3 linked regions of the Homo sapiens genome follow. The protein of the gene in region 2 purifies or fractionates together with the protein of the main gene of each other region. This does not show direct contact. Each region holds a gene or a part of one and is shown on either strand. Other genes may lie near its edges. The genes, in order: SERPINB9, TIMD4 and SPTBN4.

Region 1 (3,652 bases), on a different chromosome or scaffold from region 2:
ATAGATCATATTCTCTAACTTCAATGTAGTAACAAAAAATCAGCATTATAAATAAAATGCCAACAAAATGAAAATCACCTACAAAATATTACTGAAAACACTTTTCTAAATAATTAACTCTTCAAAGTAAAAATTAAAATACTTTTCTAGGCCAGGCACAGTGGCTCATGCCTATAATCCCAGCACTTTTGGAGGCCAAGGCAGGAGGATTGTTTGAGCCCAAGAGTTTGAGGCTAGCCTGGGCAACATTGCAAGATCCCATCTCCACTTAGCTGGGCATGATGGTGTGTGCCTGTGGTCCCAGCTACTTGGAAGGCTGAGATGGGAGGATTGCTGGAGCCCAGGACTTTGAGGCTGCAGTGAGCTATGATCAAGCTGCTGCACTCCAGCCTAGGAGACAGAGCAAGACCATGTCAAAAAAAAAAAAAAAACACAAAAAATCCTCTTCTAAACAAATATTTAAAATATTCTTCTAGGCTGGGCACAGTGGCTCATGCCTGTAATCCCAGCACTTTGGGGGGCCGAGGCGGGCAGATCACTTGAGGTCAGGAGTTCAAGACCAGCCTGGCCAAGATGGCGAAATCCTGTCTCTACTAAAAATACGAAAATTAGCCGGGTGTGGTGATGCTTGCTGGTAATCCCAGCTACTTGGGAGGCTGAGGCAGGAGAATCACTTGAACCCAGGAGGCGGAAGTTGCAGTGAGCCAAGGTCATACCACTGCACTCCAGCCTGGGCAACAGAGCAAGACTCCTTCTCAAAAAACAAACAAACAAACAAATTCTTCTAAATAAGTATATGACATATGATTTAGAAAATAATCAAAATATGGGTGATATATATTAGACCAAAGAGTTTGGCCAAAGATAAGTTAAAACATAGCATTGTTTTCAATATTACCAAGAAAGTAATAAAATGCTAAAACTTTAAAATCATTATGTTAGAAAAGATACAGAAAAACTCCCAAGGAATTTTGGGACAAACACAAAATGATCAATGAATCCAAGAGCTGGTTCTTTAAAAGAAAACACACATACATACAAAACAGACAGCCACCCACCACATGTAAGAAAAAGCACCCCAAAGTAAAGTTATATGTGAAAAAGAGGTTACAGCAATATAAACAAAGGGAATGTTAAAACAAAAACTCTATATAATTATTTTCAGTAAAGTACAGATTATAAGTTACCAAATGCCAGTCAAAAATATGAATACTAGCCAGGCATGGTGACATGTGCCTGTAATCCCAGCTACTCGGGAGGCTGAGGCAGGAGAATCACGTGAACTTGAACTCGGGAGTTGGAGGTCGTAGTGAGCTGAGATAGCACCACTGCACTCCAGCCTGGGTGACAGAGCAGAGACTCTATCTCAAAAAACAAAACAAAACAAACAAAACAAACAAAAAACAGAATCTATCAGTCACAATGAATGAACAAAAAAAAAATAAGAGGGAGAGAGAGAATTACTTCTAAAAAGGCTTAGATGATCTTTTGAGGGATTTTTTTTTCTAATATTCAAGCAATTTCTATTTCTCATGCAATACACACTGTTCTATAACATAGAAAAAAGAGGAAGCTACTAAATTTACTTTAGACAGCTCATAGACTGTTGATGAGAAACCCTGTCAAATAGAACAGAACCAAAAGCTAAGACCAATTTCACCTGAGGCTGTGACACCACTATTACTATTCATAGCCAACACATGTTGAGCACTTGCTTTACATGGACTGTCTCACCGAATCCTCACATTAGCTGAAAAATCATTTATAAAAGTAAAGATACCATATAATCACCAAAGTACAAAATGTCAAGTGAAAATCAGGAAATAGGGCCGGGCGCAGTGGCTCACGCCTGTAATCCCAGCACTTTGGGAGGCCAAGGCGGGTGGATCACGAGGTCAGGTGATCGAGACCATCCTGACTAACACAGTGAAACCCTGTCTCTACTAAAAATAAAAATTAGCTGGGCGTGGGGGCGGGCACCTGTAGTCCCAGCTACTCGGGAGGCTGAGGTGGAAGAATGGTGTGAACTCGGGGGGTGGAGCTTGCAGTAAGCTGAGATCGCACCACTGCACTCCAGCCTGGGCGACAGAGCAAGACTCTGTCTCGAAAAAAAAAAAAAGAAATAGGACTGGAGGAAGATGCTTTACATTATCAAGGGTGGTTGTCTCTGTTTGATGGATTCATAGGGATTTTTTCCTCCCTTCTACTTTTATTTTTTAAAAATTTTTATAGTGGACTTTTACCAGTTATATAATGAAGGAAAAATAAATAATTCTTTAAAATATTTCTGCTGCCATTAACGCTTCCCTGCATGTTACAGGTAGCAACGTGTACTCAGTATGTTTGGTGTCTCACAAGCATCCAGTTGAACACTGGAGCCATGGAGAGAGCTCAGTCTCACACCTAAGAAGGTACCCAGACAATTTTGGTGCTCTCAAAAAAGCTTTCTATAAGGGTTTATCAGTGAGCCTAAAACATAGAAAAAGATCATACAGATTTCAGCATAAGGAACTTCAGAATCAAAATGGAGTCACTAATATTAAAAAAACAAAACCAAAAACCTTTGACAAACAGACAGGGAAGGCCATGAAGAGAGGGTTCTCACGCTTGAATGCCTGATAACACAACTATCACAAAGGACTCTAAAAACCTACGCTCTTGCACAAAGGCCATCACAGCCTTACACAACAAAATACTTGTGCAAGGACATCTACCCAGGAACTCCCCATCCAACCTCACACTGACATCACCTTCGTTATTGATCTTTTTGCCAAAAATAATTATTTCAAAGGAATTATGTAATCCTCTTTACTTTTTCCTTTAAAAATCTTAGTGTTATTTCACCTCCCTGAATGTGCACATAGCTTGCCATGGCATGCGTATTTTCATTGCAATGCCCTATTTCCAAATATATATATCTTTTAGAGAGCCTCTCTGTGCTTATTATTAAGGCTGGTAGCCTTTACACATAAACCCTCCCTTCTTCACACAATGAGCTGGGAAATTATTAAAATGAGTAATTCACTATTGAAAAGCGTCATCAAAGAAAAAGACAGTCATATTGAACAAAGGACAACTCCCATGATGAAGGCGTGTCCAGCGGCCTGCACTCAGGGATGGCGCTTTTCGGTTTCATCTCACGTGTATGTCTCCTCTCCTTTCCACAAAGGTCTGGGGACAAGCACTGATCTTGAATCATTTCCACAGGTTCTCTGAATGTTGGTGAGACTGAGCTGAGCAGTACCTGCACAGTGTGCAGCTGTAATGAAGCACTTGCCCTGGAATCCTTCTTGCAAATTTCTGTTGATGCCCTCCCTGAGCTGTTGGTACAGAAACAACTTGAAACAGGTATTAACCTTCCTTACCAATGAAAGTTTAGTTACAAAGTCTCTTGCTCCAAAAAAGAGGTAGTTCTTTGCAACTTATGTTTCAAATAATTTCAGTGTCATTTTCTAAAGAAAGATTCTGCGCTAGGACAAGACAGCTTGGATGGTCTTTTCCAAGGGATTAACCGAGGAAAGTTTCCCCCAAATAAATCTCGGTGGAGCAGAGTTCCTGCCTCCCTGCCCTGCCCCACTTCTTCCCCAGTGGACCCCGCCTCCCTGAAACGGCCAGTGCACACTCGGGCCCCAGTCCTGCCCTCCTTTCTCAG
Region 2 (3,370 bases):
AAAAGGAGAGATACGAATCCATACGAGATGAAGGCAATTAGGGTAACAAAAGAACCAGAAATTGTATCCCAGAAGCAAGGAAATTTGGAGAAACATGAGATTCTCCTTCTAATACCTGAAGAGTTAACAGCTCTCCAGTACTTCCCAGCATGCTTAGAGCAATAGCAACATTAATGGAATAAGCACATGTTTCTCCAAAGGTAACCATCTTTTGGATTTCTACTCTCTTGACATTACCTTTAAGAGAGAAAAAAAAAAATCAGTCTTATTGACTGATGGAGCCTATAGATTTTTTGTCCTGTTAGTTCACACAACACTGATCCGGCAGTTAATAAAGGAGATGTTCTGATAGGCATAAGGAGCTCAACTATGACCTATGGGCAGATGTCATCCGGAGACAGATTTTGCTATAAATATTTCTTAATCTCAGAACTGCTCTGAGATTGAATGGACTCCCTTGCGTGTGGTAAGGAGTTCACTGTCACTGAAAGTGTTCAAGTGTACTGTGAAAGATCACTTAGCGGTGATTCTACAGAGATGATTAGAGCATGGACAGAGAAGTTGTGGTCTCTAAAGTACCCTTCATTCATGAAACTAAAGCAAGCCTGGATCAATGACATCCATGGAATAAGTGAGTCTTTTTTATGAAACAAGGAAATCTACTAAGACTTATTTTGACACTGGAGTGTCATGCCCCCATCCTCAATCTAACATGCTACTGCGTTGTTAGAGGGTAAAAAGGCCGTCTTCGTCTTCCCTTCCATGCTGCACGTCATTGAGGACATTTTTACTATCTCCAATGTAGTCTAGCCTGTAAACAGAAAAGAGGGGCTCATAATGGGAAACACAAGACTAGAAAACAAAACAAAACAGATGCTGCTAAGTTACAGTGCAATTACCCTTAAAGTTCAAAGGGCTCACAGTTCATTTAGTCTAAGCTCCACATTTTACAGATGGGAAAACTGAGGCTGCAGGGGAAAAAGAGTTTCTGCCAATCCATTATAATGAGATAAAAAAGATTCTTAGCAAAATATAAAATCATGATTTCAATACGTTTATTTACCAAAAGGTCTCTAAGTGTGACCTTGAAAGGTCACCTCGCTGGGTGTCAATTTTCCTTCTTGCTAATACATATTGTGGTATTAATGCAACTAATTAGTGAATGCAATTAATTAGGCAAGGACTTCATTAATAATTTATGCCTTTTTTAAAAATTTCTTTTCCAAAAGCTATAGAATAGGGCAAATAGCTAAAATCCCTTACTAGAGAATCTTCAAATACTATTTTTAAAAAGGCCCCAAAACAAGCTGCTTCCATGGTCTAACTGGGCAGAGGAACCAACTCCCAGGAATAATATTCTACATGCTTTTTTCATTTTCCATATTGCCAACGCTCCTCAATAAACTCCAGTTTAACAATGGCCTCTTAAACTAACTTACCCATAGGTGAACAAAAAATTTCAGAGTAAAGTGCCATATCACCTTCTTTCTTTTGCGTGCTATACTTCTATTAATCCCACCTGCCTTGGTACTGGCATTTTGCTCAGAGTGTTAACCAAGACACAGGTTAATGTGAGCTAAATCTGCACAACTTTTTCACTTCTAATGTCACATCTTTCCAACTCTATGTGTAATCGTAACACAAGCTCAAGTCATTAAACCACTGAGTAGTAGCTAATCATTTGTAACAGCTTGTACAATCATTACAACACCCATTCATGCAAGATAGATTACCTTGTGTGTTTCTGCGAACAATAGGTTTCCATGAGTTTCCCTGAAAAGACAAGGCCACAGTGTGAGCAGAGTGGCTGCGGTGCATAGAACATGCAAAATGCTGGGGGAATTCCAGTGCTGCCCCGCAAAGAGCAGATATGGGCCAAAGGTGAGAACCAGTGGCTGGCTTTGGCAGAAAAAGCCATTCCCTTTCCCAGGTCAAACACTTGCTATTTTAACCACAGTTAGTGCTCATCAATTACCAAGTTGTTCCAACATTCTGGGCAATGGTGTTAAGCTATTTCATTCTGAGTCATCTGCCTATCCAGAATTCAAGCACTCACTTGGGTTTCAAAACACTTCTTTACGAGACATACTCAGAATTTTCCAAAACTGTAATCATGCCTTTGTATGAAGGCTAACAGCAGGATTCCAGTAAATTTTAAATTTGCTTTTGCACCTGGGGCAGGTGTTGAAATATACAAGTTTCATTATTATTCAAATCAGCTGAGATGGTTACTAGTCTCATCTCCTGACATACTGCCCTGAAACAGCTTTTGTTAATGAGTACAGAACAATTTATCCCCATTTTACAACAGTACCAGGTGCCACGTGCCTATAATTTGCCTGAAAACCATAAGCTGTTTCATGGCTGTTTTTGTAGCATTTTAAAACTTTTGGGGGCGGGGGGCAGGGGTGGGATGGAGGTGCAAGGTCATGGAGCAGCTTGCTAACTTAATGAAAACTACAGACCTTGTCCCCTGAAAAATGCAGGCATGAACACATAAACACTTTTGCATGTGATTTCAAAGGATTCACATTACCCTTGAAGTCCATCTGTGGCCTCCAGGTTAAGAAAGCTTGCTTTTAGGGAACATATAAGAAAACCAGGATCACGCCAGGCATGGTGGCTCATGCCTGTAATCCCAGAGCTTTGGGAGGCTAAAGTGGGTGGATCACCTGAGGTCAGGAGTTTGAGTCCAACCTAGCCCACATGGTGAAACCCCCTCCTACTAAACATACAAAAATTAGTCCCGTGTGATGGCGTGAACCTGTAGTCTCAGCTACTCAGGAGGCTGAGGCAGGAGAATCACTTGAACCCAGGAGGCGGAGGTGCAGTAAGCTGAGATCACGCCACTGCACTCCAGCCTGGACAACAGAATGAGACTCTCTCAAAAAAAAAAAAAAAAAAAAAAAAAAAAAAGAAGAAGAAAACCAGGATTGTTCATGGTCTTCGTCCTGCAACAATCCTAGCCAAAAGAAGAGACAAGCTAGGGTTTTCCCAACCAAAGAACAGAGAAAGTGAACAAAGTAGGAAATAGTACTTTCCTCTTAAGGCAGTAATAGGGATAAAATGAATTAGGCACATCAAGAGTATACCATCAGGACTGGCACAGAAATGTCCAATAAATGAAGGTGCTCTTCTGCTTTTTTTCCTTTTCCAAAACGTAAACTCTACCAGGAGGTTAATACACAGAGTCATTAGCAGCTTGGGGAGAATGAACTTACCTGTTACTTCCCTGGCTGGGATGGGAACAATGGCAGAACTGAGCCTCTTTGGGGAGGGATAAAGGGGAAGGAAGTGGAGACAACTCCAGATCCTCCTGCAGTCGCCAGGGTTCTGAAGTGCTCCATCACCTGGCCCTCCCTCCTTACCT
Region 3 (3,652 bases), on a different chromosome or scaffold from region 2:
ATCCCTCCCAAAGCAAAACATACTAGGTGCCCTTGTTTATTCCTACCTTGGCATTAGGTACGAGGAAGAAAGACCACCTACAGATTCCACTAGCAAAATCTGAATCTGTCCTGCCCACTTCATATCTTGGGACTCACTCCATTACTGGCCGGTGATACCCCTTTTTGGCTCCACTTGTCCCCAGATTCTGCCTCTCAGTTGGACAAAAAGAGGGTGGACAAGCAGGAGCTGGACTCCCCAAGAGCAGGCACATCATGGCTAGACCCTCATTTGGAAACCTGTAAGAGATGACTCCCCCTTCCCAACCCCTACCCTCATTAGTTTGGGCTCTGCCCGTTTTCGGACCCTCCCCCAATTTGAAACTTCAAGGGTAGACCCACCCCACTCATTGGTTGAGTGACCTCTCCAAGCTCCACGACAAGCCATTGAAACCTTCTCAACTAGATGCCTCCCTCTTTGCTATTTAGCTGATCAACTCCTGGGTTGGTTGCTAAGAGGTTAGGTTCCAATTTACTCACTTTCAGAACATTTTCCTTCTGTTCCCACCTAAGCTCTACCCATCATCCATTAGATGCACTAACCTTAGGTCCTGCCCCTTCCTGTTCATTGGTTGGAATCATCAAAGTTGAGCCCCACCCCTCATCTGGCCCCACCTACTACCCCCACGGGTTGGAGGGCCTGACGTTAAACCACACCCCCTCCTGCTCATTGGTTGGCTTTCTTGATTTAAGCCACCACCACCCCCCAGCTCTGGCCCCACCTACTACCGCCACCTGCTGGAGGGCCTGAAGTTGAGCCACACCCCCTCCTCAGTCCCACCGCTCCACGCAATGGTCACCCTGAGCCTGAGACCCGCCTTCCAAAGCCCCGCCCACACGCTCACCGGTTGGACGACTTGCGGTTAGCGTCGAGCTCGCGCTTGCGCAGTAGGAAGCCCTCGTGCTGCACTGTGTGAGTGGGCGGTGGCGGAGGCGCGGGGGCGGAGCCGCCCTGGGCCGGGGCGGAGCGCGAGCGCCGGCTTCCCCCGCCCTCACCACCCTCTCTGGGCCGCGGCCGCCGTCGCGGCTTGGGCCGGTCCCGCGCCCGGGGCCGGTCCGGCCGAGGTGTCCGCTCGGGCAGCTCAAGCCCGTTGGGCAGGCGACCTGGGGGAAGCTCGCGTGGCTGAGGCAGCGACGGCTGTGTGAAGGGAGGGGGAAGAGGGGTGCTGTCCATGGAGAGGGTGTGGGGGTCATCTGTTTGGGGGAGTCATGGGTCTGGGGTCCCATCTGTCTACAGGGCCATTTGTCTCGGAGGCGAGTATGGGAGGACCTCAGGGTTGGAGGCCCAATTCTTAGGGCCCCATGGGTCTTGGGAGTGAGTCTGTTAGGACTCATTGGTTTGGAATCTCTCTCGGTGGTGGAAAGAGGCAGCCAGATCTCTGGAGGTGGGGGTGCAAGCAGGGCGTGTCCCCACTGTCTGCAGGAGAAACCTGGGGCTTCCTTCTGTGTGTGTGTGTATGAGGCTATGAAGAAATTTGGGACCCCACTGAGCTGAAGAAATACGGAGTCCAGGACAGATGTGGGAAGAGTCTGTGTGTGTGTGTCTGTGTGTGTATCTGTGTCTGTGTGTCTGTGTGTGTGTGTCTGTGTGTGTGTGTCTGTGTGTGTGTGTGTGTGTGTGTGTGTGTGTGTGTGTGGAGGGGCAGTAGGGGTCTCTTAGGTAGGTGCCCCGTCTTTCTAAGGGGGACATTTTCAGATTCTGGGGACCCTGAGAGTCCATGCTGTCTCTGCAGGGTCCAGGTAGGGAATGGGTCCTGCCAGGGCTAGGCACTGGCTGTTTCTGAGATCCTGCCTCCTGCTCTGAAAAAGGGGTCCTCCTATCCCCACCCATCCGAGGCTCAACTTACCCCAGCAGGCAGCCCTGGGCCTGCCTCTTTCTCCTGCAGCTGTTCCACAATGTCAGCCAGGGTGGCCTTCCTGGGGGATGGGGGACAGAAAGACCCAGTGAAACCAGGGTTCCTTCTCCCATGGACCTGTCTGGCTGGGCAGAGGAGCCTCCACTTCTTAGCTGGAAGTGCCAGGCCCCTGCCCACTTCTGCAGCTGTTTCTCTCAGATGCTCGCCTTAGGTACCACAGGTGTTTGGGACGTGTCTGCTGAATGGAAGACCAAACCTCTCGCCCCTTTGAATTTTTTTTTTTTTTTTTTTGAGACGGAGTCTTTCTCTGTTGCCCAGGCTGGAGTGTAGTGGTGCATGATCTCGGCTCACTGCAACCTCTGCCTCCTGTGTTGAAGCGATTCCCCTGCCTCAGCCTCCCAAGTAGCTGGTACTACAGGCGTGCGCCACCATGCCGGCTAATTTTTGCATTTTTAGTAGAGACAGGGTTTTGCTATATTGGCCAGGTTGGTCTCGAACTTCTGACCTCAAGTGATCTGCCCGCCTCAACCTCCCAAAGTGCTGAGATTACAGGCGTGAGCCACCGCGCCCAGATGCCCCTTTGAATTTTAAGCAGCACAAAGAACAACTTGCAAACGTTGCCTTTCTCCACCCACCCCTGACTCTCCAGTCCCCCAATCGCCCCCATTCCAGCCCAGATAATTCTCGGTCATCATTGATGACAAGCCTGTTTTTCCCAATGGACTGTGAGTCTCTAAAGTCAGGGATGGGACTGGTTCAGTCACCGCTCGACTCAGCACATGCCAGGCAGAGTGGGCACTCAGCAAATGTTCATGAAATGTGCAATTTAAAAAGAATCAAGAAGTCATTGTCTCCTGACCAAAGGCCTCTTTCTGGAGACACACTCAGCTGACTGGACAGATCTGCACAACACACACTGGCCAACTCTGGATTCTGAAAGTCCTGGTTCGTTTAAGCTGAGTGACTTGCCCTTTTTGTGCCTCAGTTGCCCTAGTCATACAATGGAGAAGACAACAGCCCCCACTTCATAAGGCTGCTGAGAGAATTGTGATAAAGGGTCTCCTCTCCAATCAAGGAGGTGAGGGTTCCACCATTAGCCCAGTGGGCAAACTGAGGCACAGAGAGGACAAAATCCCTGCCTCGGGGCACCCGGGAGACTTGATGCAGGAGTCACAACCCAGGGGCCGAGAACCTACGTCTGGAGAAAGGCAGTCTGCCTTTTCTTTCAACAGGAAGGGCTCCCCTTTCTGTGTAACAATGGGCACATCGATTATCTTGCAGCTTCAGTTTACACCTCTGCAAAATGGGTACCGCGGCGATATCTCCTTCTTTGGGAAGTTCTGAGCCCTGAAGCCCTTTCACTGGGCCTGAGGGGTTCTAGGAGCTCTCCGCTTTCCCCTCCCCTCACTTTCTGGTCATAAGGCGGGCACCTCACCCCTTGACCAGGTCTCCTCTGATGGGCATCTCCTGTTCGCTGGACTCCTGCCGCTCCAAGCGCCGCTCACGCCGCTCGCGCCGCCGCTCCATCTGCTCATAGCGGCCCAGGGTAAGGCTGTGTGCCGCCTCGTGCTCCGCTGACTCCTGCCGCTCCGGCCGCCGCCTCCGCGCAGCCTCCTCGGATTGATCGACTGACTCTTGCCGCTCAGGCCGCCGCCTCCTGGGCAGCTCCTCCGCGCGATCAGCTGACTCCTGGCGCTCCGGTCGTGGCCGCACCTGCTCCGCCGCCGCGGGGGTCGCGGGGGTCTCCGCCGCGTCCTC

The links.
Region 1: the proteins of TIMD4 (region 2) and SERPINB9 purify together in Homo sapiens (affinity purification with mass spectrometry; one large-scale study listed by BioGRID and IntAct). This does not show direct contact.
Region 3: the proteins of TIMD4 (region 2) and SPTBN4 purify together in Homo sapiens (affinity purification with mass spectrometry; one large-scale study listed by BioGRID and IntAct). This does not show direct contact.

Annotation. Positions count from the first base shown.
Region 1 is NC_000006.12:2,896,709-2,900,360, forward strand, and holds part of SERPINB9 (serpin B9), read right to left. Parts: intron 3,349-3,652; exon of another isoform or gene 3,208-3,348; intron 2,412-3,207; exon of another isoform or gene 2,321-2,411; intron 1,362-2,320; exon of another isoform or gene 1,233-1,361; coding exon of another isoform or gene 1,218-1,232; intron 1-1,217. UniProt on the Homo sapiens protein: Granzyme B inhibitor.
Region 2 is NC_000005.10:156,918,731-156,922,100, forward strand, and holds the end of TIMD4 (T-cell immunoglobulin and mucin domain-containing protein 4 isoform 1 precursor), read right to left. Parts: coding exon 3,369-3,370; intron 1,774-3,368; coding exon 1,734-1,773; intron 812-1,733; coding exon 727-811; 3' UTR 562-726; downstream 1-561. UniProt on the Homo sapiens protein: Phosphatidylserine receptor that plays different role in immune response including phagocytosis of apoptotic cells and T-cell regulation.
Region 3 is NC_000019.10:40,567,960-40,571,611, reverse strand, and holds part of SPTBN4 (spectrin beta chain, non-erythrocytic 4), read right to left. Parts: coding exon 3,330-3,652; intron 1,956-3,329; coding exon 1,886-1,955; intron 1,177-1,885; coding exon 884-1,176; intron 1-883.